Linked DNA regions of Homo sapiens: region 1 is linked to region 2. Evidence: fine-mapped expression QTL. Tissue or cell type: whole blood. Region 2 holds a variant in brackets; the other region holds the start of a gene. All regions are shown on one strand. Distances are between the middles of the regions.

What was found. PIP is the estimated chance that this variant, and not a neighbour inherited with it, causes the effect.
Region 1: it holds the start of KLHDC1, and the variant in region 2 is fine-mapped to the expression of KLHDC1 in whole blood (INTERVAL, PIP 0.94).

The regions. Positions count from the first base shown.
Region 1 is chr14:49,690,700-49,696,062 of GRCh38, reverse strand. It overlaps KLHDC1 (kelch domain containing 1), which reads right to left and starts at 2,943. Exons shown (of 13, transcript NM_172193.3): 1 at 2,773-2,943. The coding sequence starts at 2,868. RefSeq lists silencers at 2,569-2,738, 2,749-2,798.
Region 2 is chr14:49,730,077-49,735,076 of GRCh38, reverse strand. KLHDC1 (kelch domain containing 1) reads right to left here. Exons shown (of 13, transcript NM_172193.3): 9 at 2,261-2,373; 10 at 416-488. Among named protein-coding and RNA genes, the nearest start is that of KLHDC2, 36 kb to the left of the region's middle. The variant C/T (reference allele first, on the strand shown) is at 2,626.

The DNA.
Region 1 (5,363 bases), 39 kb after region 2:
ACAGAGTCTCACTCTGTCGCCCAGGCTGGAGGGCAGTGGTGCGATCTCTGCTCACTGCAAGCTCCGCCTCCTGGGTTCTCGCCATTCTCCTGCCTCAGCCTCCCCAGTAGCTGAGACTATAGGCGCCTGCCACCACGCCTGGCTAATTTTTTTTGTATTTTTAGTAGAGACGGGGTTTCACCATGTTAGCCAGGATGGTCTTGATCTCCTGACTTTGTGATCCGCCTGCCTCGGCCTCCCAAAGTCCTGGGATTACAGGCGTGAGCCAACGTGCCCGGCCAACAATAGATTTTTTAACGTGGATGAAACAGCTTTATATTGGAAGAGGATGCCATCTAGGACTTTCATAGCTAGAGAGAAGTCAATGTCCAATTTCAAAGGACCAGCTAATTCTCTTGTTAGTGGCTAATGTAGTAGCTGTCTTTAAGTTGAAGCCAATGTTCATTTATCATTCTGAAAATCCTAGGGCCCTTAAGAATTATGCTAAATCTACACTGCCTGTGCTCTAACAACGGAACAAGAAAGCCTGGATGACAGCATGTCTCTTTGACAGCATGGCTTACTGAGTAGTTTATTGTTGAGAACTGCTGCTCAGAAAATCTCACTCACTGCTCATTGACAACACACCTAGTCACCCAAGAGCTCTGATGGGAGATCTACAAGATTTATCTTTTCATGCCTGCTACACAATATCCATTCTGTTGCCCATGGATCAAGGAATCATTTTGACTTTCAAGTCTTATTATTTAAGAAAATACATTTCATGGCTGGGCACGGTGGCTCACGCCTGTAAAAAATACAAAAATTAGCCAGGCATGGTGGTGCACACCTGTAATTCCAGCTACTCAGGAGGCTGAGGCAGGAGAATCGCTTGAACCTGGGAGGCAGAGGTTGCAGGAGAGATTGTCTCAAAACACACACACACACACACACACACACACACACATCAAAACTGCATTGCATGTTACAGAGAAATATTTTGTGAAAGGAAGGCTCAATGTGGCAAACTTCATTGTCTTGTCTTAAGAAACTGCCACAGCCACTCCAACCTTCAGCAACAACCACCCTAATCAGTCAGTAGCCAACTACATAGAGGAAGACCCTCCATGAGCAAAAAGAATACAACTCGCTGAAGGCTCAGATAATCCTTAGCATTTTTTAGCAATAATTTTGAAATTAGGTATGTACAGTTTTTTGTTTTTTTGTTTTGAGACGGAGTCTCGCTCTGTCGCCCAGGCTGGAATGCAATGGCGCAATCTTGGCTTACTGCAACCTCCGCCTCCCGGGTCCAAGTGATTCTCCTGCCTCAGCCTCCCGAGTAGCTGGGATTACAAGCATCCGCCACCATGTCCGGCTAATTTTTGTGTTTTTAGTAGAGACGGGGTTTCACCATGTTGGCCAGGCTGGTCTCGGACTCCTGACTTCAGGTAATCCACCCGCCTCAGCCTCCCAAAGTGCTGGGATTACGGGTGTGAGCCACCGCGCCCAGCCAGGTATGTACATTTTTTTTTTACACATAATACTATTGCATGCTTAACACACTACAATGTAAACATGACTTTTATATGCACTGAGATACCAAAAAAATTCGTATGACCTCGCTTTATTGCAGTCATACGAAGTATTCTGCAATACTTCGAGGTATGCCTGTATGTTGGTCATTTCAATATGATTCAGTCACGTTACAGGTCTGTCACATAATGGTAGGGAGACAGAAGATGTAGGTTCTACTATCAGTAGAACTTCCAGATGGCTTAAGAAAAAAAATCTGTAAACTAAGAGGGTTGGCATATAGTATTCCTGTTTTCCAGCTTTACCATTCTTGCTTCTATAATTCTGTGATTATGGACACACAACACACACATACGCTCAAACCTCCATTGTAGTAAGAATTTTAAAGCATAATATTTCTTAGCATATTATTGCTAACATGCGTCTATTTTGAGACTAGAAAAAATAGTCATTAGTAAAGAAACGCCACTAAAAATAGCTTAGAAATATTTAAAATGCAAGCCAGGCACAGTGGCTAATGCCTGTAATCCCAGCATTTTGGGAAGCCAAGGCGGGCGGATCACCTGAGGTCGCGAGTTCAAGACCAGCCTGACCAACATGGGAAACCCTGTCTCTATTAAAAATACAAAATTAGCCAGGCATGATGGCACATGCCGGTAAGCCCAGCTACTAGGGAGGCTGAGGCAGGAGAATCGCTTGAACCCGGGGCGGGGGGCGGAGGTTGCGGTGAGCTGAGATCGTTCCATTGCACTCCAGCCCTGGGCAACAAGAGCGAAACTCCATCTCAAAAAAAAAAAAAAAAGAAAAAGAAAAGAAAATAAATATTTAAATGCTTCAGTGATTTCGATATTTTATTTCGAATCGCGCCGTGGGAATAAGGAAATATATACAAAATGATACAGCACGGCGTCCTCGGGTCCTTCTAGGTCTGCGCCAGTATTTAAGGATAATAATTAATCGCGCTGTAACTGCCTTTGCATTGGGCAAACCGTGGTTACTGAATTGCTGGCAAAGAGGGGCGGAGAGTGGTAAGAGGCCCGGAGCCGGGTCTGAGGCTTTAATAGAAGAAGCAACGGCGGGACGACGTCAAGCCCTGGCGCGGCTGTGGGGGCGGCGGCCAGCGGAGGGGCTGGGGGGCTGCAGGCGCCGGGCGCGCCAGGCCTGGGCCGCAGCCTCGGGAGCGGGTGTGGCGGGCGCTGCGTCCGCTCAGGCCGAGGGTCTCCCGGCGCGAGTCTACCCCGTCCCGCCTCTTCCCCTTACCACGTAGCCCCCCCACACGTAGAGGAAGTTTCCGTCCACCACGGCGCAGTGGCCGCTGCGTTCCTCCGCCACACAGAACAGCTGAGAGTCCGCCATTCGCGCCGTCGCTGGCCCGCCGCTTGCCGCGCCACAACCCCTGCCCGCCCGGCGGCCTCGCCTCCAGCCCCGACTGCTCCACGCACGAACGGAACGCGGCGAGGGTCGAGATTGGTGGGAAGGCGGAGCCAGTGCGTCTGCAACGTCCCGCGGCTCTCGCTCGGGAAGTCGAGCCAGGGGCGGCGCGGCTGTGGAGGGACGTTCTGGCTCCTCGCAGTGGGCAAGGGGCCTGGGCTTTCCACGCGCAGATTCCTTCTCTCTTGGAATTGTGTTTTGGCAGTACAGCCTCATTTAGTAGTCAGTCTGTAGTCAGATTCCTTGATTATCTCAAAATGTCTTTTCTATAGTTGGTTTGTTCAGCACCGTAATTCGTTGTTAACGCCTCTTAAGACTTTACGTCTGTTTTACTCTAGAATAGCTTCTCTCCCTTCTCTCTTGTGCCATTTGTTTGTTATATGGATTAGTTTTCTTATTTTCCTACAGCCGTACCACCTTCTGGGTTTGGTTCCTCAGTGTCTTTTCTCATTAACTTGTGCATCCTTTCCCCATACTTCTTTTAGGCTGGAAGCTGTATCTAAAAGCTTTATTAGATTCTAGTTCAGATTTTTTTTTGGAAAATACTTCATATTGCATCACATTAGAAGGCACTTAAGTCTGGTGCACTTTAATGATACTTTCTATTGTTTATTTTTGACTATACAAATAAACAGAGTATCTGCTCCTTTTCTTACACAAAAGGAAGTATATACAGTGTTCCTTAACTTTCTCTTTTCACTTGACGATCCATATCAGGATACAGCAAGCAGTCTCCTCAGTCCTTTTCATAGCTTCATAGCACTCCACCGATTGGATGTGTCATAGCTTATTCAAACAGATTCTTATTGATGGACATATCGGTTATTTCCAGGTTTTTTTGGCTATCATAAATAATGCTGCGATGAAACGTTATGCATATGTTATTTTGTATTTGTACAAGCCTATCTTTGGAGTAGAGTTCTAGATGTGGAATTGCTGGGTCAGAGGATAAATGCATATTTAACTTTACAAATGTAACTGGATTGCAGTGGCTCACGCCTCTCATCTAAGCACTTTGGGAGGATGAGGTAGGCGGATCACTTGAGCTCAGGAGTTTGAGACCAGCCTGGCCAACCTGGGCAATCCCGTCTCTACTAAAAATACAAAAATTAGCCGGGCGTGGTGGCGCATGCCTGTAATCCCAGCTACAAAGGCAAGAGAATCGCTTTAACCCGGGAGGTGGAGGTTGCAGTGAACCGAGATCGCGCCACTGCACTCCGGTCTGGGCGACAGAGCAAGGTTCCTTAGAAAGAAAGAGAGAAAGAGAGAGAGAGGGAAAGGGAGAGAGAAAGAAAGAAAAAGGAGGAAGGGAGGGAAGGAAGAAGGGAGGGAGGGAGGAAGGGAGGAAGGAAGGAAGAAATTCAAGATAGACAAAAGTGATCTATGATAATAGAAAGCAGAAAAGTGGTCATTTGGGAGTAGGGAGGGGGAGGGGACTGATGGAAAGGAGTACAGGAAGTGTTCTGGAGTGATTAAAATGTTCTGTATCTTGATTGAGGTGGTGGTTACATGGGTGTATACATTTATCAAAATGCATTGAACTGCATACAGATATGTGCATTTTACTTAGTGTAAACTATATGTCAATCATAATTCTCACTCCATCACTTTATTGTTACTAGTAATATTGGTATTGTATTTTTGAAATGGAGCATTTGTCCTCCTGGACTGTAGAGTCTGGTGGAGTCTATAGACCAGCAAACAGACAATTACCATACCGTGCAGTAAGTGTGAAAATAGCAAAAGTCCAGGGCACCTTGGGTGTACAGAGGCCCTTTAACTCAGATTGAGGGAAGACAGGGAAGGTTCCTGAGAGAAAGTAAAGTCTAAGTTAAGAACTGAATGATGAACGGAAGTTGTTCAAGGAACTTTCATTCGTGAGAGGGAAGAGTCAAGGATATGCCTAGTTTACCAGCTTGGTCACTGGGTGGGAGGTGGGTGGAGCCCTTCGCTAGGTTATTGAACATGGGAGGAGGAACAGGTTTGGGGGAGGGCAGGGCTAATGGTGAGTTCATTTGGAGGCATATTGAGTTGGATTTGAAGTCTAAGAGAGCTAAGGGCTAGAGATAGGGATTTTGGAGTCATCAGCATATAATTGTTCATTTAAGTATTGGGACTTTATGAGCTGGCCAGGTGAAGGAGCCATAGAAGAAGTTGAAAATTTATTAGAGAAAGAGAATTATGATTGGGAACATTTATGGGAAAAGGGGAATTGTGAGGTCAGATTGTGAGAGAAAGCTGGGCAACTGGAATTGATTATTTTCTCTCCAATTTCTTAATATAAAAAGTAGCAAACCAAAAAAAGTTGAAAAAATAGTTCAAAGAGTACCTGTGTATCTTCCACTCCAGGTTAATAATTATTAATACTACCATACTAGCTTTATGTTTGTTGGTATGTGTGTGTCTGTCTTTTTCATTTT
Region 2 (5,000 bases):
CATGGAAGCAAATTTCCTGATTAACTTGCTTTAAACCTCTTCCAAAAACAAATAACTACTATTAAAGCCAACCCCATTTTTGTCTGCTTATTAAAATTATTAACATTAAAAACATTAATCTCATATGATGCTTTTAATTATCTTAATCTTCACAGTTATCAGGCAAGATTATGCATTTACCTAAAAGAATAACATTTTCAAATATGCAAGTATGGGTGAAAACTGGATAGATCATTTCTAACAATCAGATATAATTAAAATAATAATTAAATTATTTAGGTAACATCAAGCTCATTTGAAAGATATCCTTCTCAATGGCTTATGGTTTCAATGGCAAACACTATAAATTCAGTACTATATTTTAATACTTTAAAAATTCTTAACTATTTTACTATTTGTCAATTTCTTGACTTACCTAGGTCTTGTTTTAGGTAAATGTGTAAGTTGTTTCCAACAATTTGTTGTGACATTATGAATCCAACCATCACCTGCAATATCATGACAGTTCAGAAATTAAGATTAGGTCTCTGGGATACAATTTTAATTTTCCCCCCAATTTATCATGCTACATTTAAATGACTATCTTTTCTGAGTGCACCTATTTTATCATACAAATTTTCAAACATTTACAAAAATAGAGTGACCATGACAATGAACTTCCATATATCGCAGATTCAACAACTATCAAGACTTTGCTACATGTGCTCCACTTATCTTTTTGTTATTATTGCTTAATTTTTCTAAATGAAATCCTAGATCTCACATCATTTTCTCCATACATACTTCAGTATGCATTACTGAAAATAAAAGGACATTTTTTACATAACCACAATGCCATTATCACAGTCAACCAAACTAAAAAAAAAGTCTTGGGATCATCTAATATCCATATGACCAAATCTTAGACTGAAACAGAATCTTTAAGGGAGGAAATTGACTAGCTTATGAGTTAGGACATTTAATTTCCCATAGGTCAATGACCAAAAACAGAAAACAGGAACTAAAAACACTAGAGATCATGAAGATATGATATTAAACAGCCCCTAGTGAAATGTACAGATGTTAGTTTTTGGTTAGATTCCAAATCTCTTTTAAATAAAAATCTCACAAATTGGAGAAGTATAATAATGTGCAAGAATAACTAACATCTCCTACTAGGAACTGTTGTTTCTCCAACTAACCTCTGGAATTTGTCTGACTGCCAGACACACAGCTGATGCTCAATAAACTTTTGTTGAAAAACAGTTGTTTCCAGACCCTAATATATAATTATATAAATGTTGTAATAGTGTATAATGTTTCTTAATGAAAACATCTCTAGCCAGAGAAAACTTCTGGGTTAAGAAAACAGAAAATGGCCAGGTGCGGTGGCTGACGCCTGTAGTCCCAGCACTTTGGGAGGCTGAGGCGGGTGGATCACGAGGTCAGGAATTCGAGACCAGCCTGGCCAACATGGTGAAACCCCACCTCTACATACAAAAATTAGCTGAGCGTGGTGGTGGGCACCTGTAATCCCAGCTACTCAGGTGCCTGAGGAAGGAGAATCGCTTGAACCCGGGAGGTGGAGGTTGCAGTGAGCCGAGATTGCACCATCCCACTCCAGCCCAGGCCACAGAGCAAGACTCCATCTCAAAAAAAAAAAAAAAGAAAAGAAAATAGAAAACATAAAACATCTAACATGCCAAATTAAGAAGTCAATATTCGTGGTCATCTGTCTATCTTGATGCCACAGTTCTACTGCTGAAAGAAAAACTGCATTCCAAAACCCATAGCCACTGGGATCAGCAATGACTGGAGTTTAAAAAACCTAGCTAAACACTTTCCTCTACAGCTCTGGAACAAAAAGAGAAGCAACTGGGCTTCCCACTTTGTATTTCCAGGGCCTTCTAAGAAAGGCTGCTCTTCCAATCCCCTAGCCTGGAGTACAGCAAAAGCGAACAGTGCAAGCATCCTACCCTACAGTACAAGCATCTGGATCAAAAATCAGCGGACACAGAATCACAGAATATAGTAGTATAAAGGGGCTTTGTTTCATCTAGCTTCAATCACCCTTCCTCTTCTCTTTCCCTAGAAAACAGGGGAACGTGGAGAGCCAAGGGTACAAAAGCAAGGAGATCATAATTCATGCAAGAAAATAATTGAGGATAAAGGCAAACCAGAAAAACAGGAAAAAAGGAAGATTTACTTCACTGTAAGTATGAAATACAATTAAGAAAAAAGAATGAGATAATAATTATAGGCTAAACCTTAATCAACTTACTTAATGGGATATTATCTGCACTTAGTCCACCACATAGGAAAAGTTTATCATCAGCTATAGGTGTTAAAGTATGCCATGACCGATGTTTTGGGCTTTCTCCATTAATAGTAATCCTGTGGCAAGGAGAAAAAGAAAGTCTAGGTACTATATTAATCAAAATAAAAGGTTTTTAATCATCTTAGATCTTAAAAAAAAAATCTGCCCTCACTGCTCCAAAAAACTTTTACTAGTCCCACCTACATGAATATTTGAAAAACATTATTAAATTCTTAGATGAATTTAAAAAATCTTTCCATTTAATGACCATTCCACCTGGCTACACAGTGAAAATAAAAGTCAATTCTCAGCCGACGCGGTGGCTCATG[C/T]CTGTAATTCCAACACTTTGGGAGGTCAAGGCGGGTGGATTGCCTGAACTCAGGAGTTCGAGACCAGACTGGGCAGCATGGTGAAACCCCATCTCTACTAAAATACAAAAAATTAGCTGGGCCTGGTGGCATGCGCCTGTAGTCCCAGCTACTCGGGAGGCTGAGGCAGGAGAATTGCTTGAACCTGGGAGGTGGAGGTTGCAGTGAGCCAAGATTGCACCACTGCACTCCAGCCTGGGTGACAGAGAGAGACTGCTTCTCCAAGAAAAAAAAAAAAAGTCAATTCTCCGTTAATGCACAATGCATACTCAGCATCATTCTTATTGGCTAATCAGCTGCTTCCTTAGTTTTTCAACACAATTTTTTTCATGTCTGTAACTTTTTACTGTTGTTTCATGGTTAATTTTGTGTTTTTAGCTGATTTCCCCAAGGATATTATGGGTTTTTATATTGTTGTTTTTTACTTTGATCTACTTCTAGAATTTCCCAAAACATTATCTTCCTCTGAAAATGCTAGCTATTCTAACTTCAAAATAAAAGCATGAAAGCCATTCCAGATACAGGGTAAACCTCTAAGGATTTCTCAAAAAAATAAAAATAAAAACAATGCCAGGCACAGTGGCTCACTTCTGTAATCCCAGCACTTTGGGACGCCAAGGCAGGAGGATTGCTCAAGCCCAGGAGTTGGACGGACCATCCTGGGCAAAATAGAGACATTGTCTCTTAAAACAAAAGAAAACAGAACAACAAGAATAATCATAATAATAAAAGGGACACTTAAAAGAGACGGGGCATGAAAAATAAAAACATAAGTTATAGCTGGGCCTGGTAGCATGTGCCTGTAATCCCAGCTACTAGGGAGGTTGAGGCAGGAGAATCACTTGAACCTGGGAGGTGGAGGTTGTAGTGAGCCGAGGTCGCGCCATTGCATTCCAGCCTGGGCAACAAGAGCGAAACTCCGTCTCCAAAAAAAATAAATAAATAAAATAAAATAAAAAAGCATAAGTTAGAAGCAAAAGAATTTAATTTAGGAGGTGAGAAGATACCATTCTTCCACAGTCTGGAATGTTCCAGAATAACACAGGACATTTTTGGAAGATACAATTTGTTTTTTACAAAACGGAAATATTTTTACTGTTTGTGTTGTTTATAAGAAACTTTTTTTTATTTTTTGAGGCGGCGTTTTGCTCGTTTCCCAAGCTGGAGTGCAATGGCGTGATCTCAGCTCACTGCAACCTCCGCCTCCCAGGTACAAGCAATTCTCCTGTCTCAGCCTCCCAAGTAGCTCTGTTTACAAGCATGCGCCAATACACCCGGCTAATTGTTTTGTATTTAGTAGAGACGGGGTTTCACCATGTTAGTCAGGCTGGTTAAGAACTCCTGACCTCAGGTGATCCACCAGCCTCAGCCTCCCAAAGTACTGGGATTACAGGCGTGTACCACTGCACCTGCCTGGTTTTATTTTTATTATTAGTTTTTGAGACAGAGTTTCACTCTTATTGCCCAGGCTGGAGTGCAGTGGCACGATCTTGGCTCAATGCAACCTCCACCTCCCGGGTTCAAGCGATTCTCCTGCCTCAGGCTCCCGAGTAGCTGGGATTATAGGCGTCCACCACCACTCCTTGCTTTTTTTGTATTTTTAGTAGAGCTGGGGTTTCACCATGTTGGCCAGGCTGGTCTCAAACTCCTGACCTCAGGTGATCCACCTGCCTCGGTTTCCCAAAGTGCTGGGATTACAGGTGTGAGCCACTGCACCCAGCCTAGGTTGAACATCTTTTAAAAATAATTTTTACCTATTATTTCTTCTGTGAGTTGTTTATGCATGTTCTTTGTCCACTTTTCTATTGGATTATTTGCCTTTTTAAAACTGATTTACTGAGTTCTTGTGGATCTTTGCCCTGACATCTCTCTTTTAAAAATATTGCAAATGTCAGCTGGGCACGGTGGCTCATGCCTGTAATCCCAGCACTTTGGGAGGCCAAGGTGGGCGGATCACAAGGTCAAGAGATCGAGACCATCCTGGCCAACATGGTGAAATCTCGTCTCTACTAAAAATACAAAAATTAGCTGGGCGTGGTGGTGCGCGCCTGTAGTCCCAGCTACTCCGGAGGCTGAGGCAGGAGAATTGCTTGAACCTGGGAGGCGAGGTTGCAGTGAGCTGAGACCATGCTACTGCACTCCAGCCTGGTGACAGAGCAAGACTCTGTCTCAAAAAAAAAAAAAAAAAAACCTGCAAATATTGTTTCCAGTTTTTTGTTTGCATTTTACAATTTGCCATTTAATTTTTTGTGGTACATTTTTCTACAGAGAAATATTTAATTTTTAAGTAGTCTTATCGATCAGTCTTTTCATTTATGAATTTTGAGTTCATATCA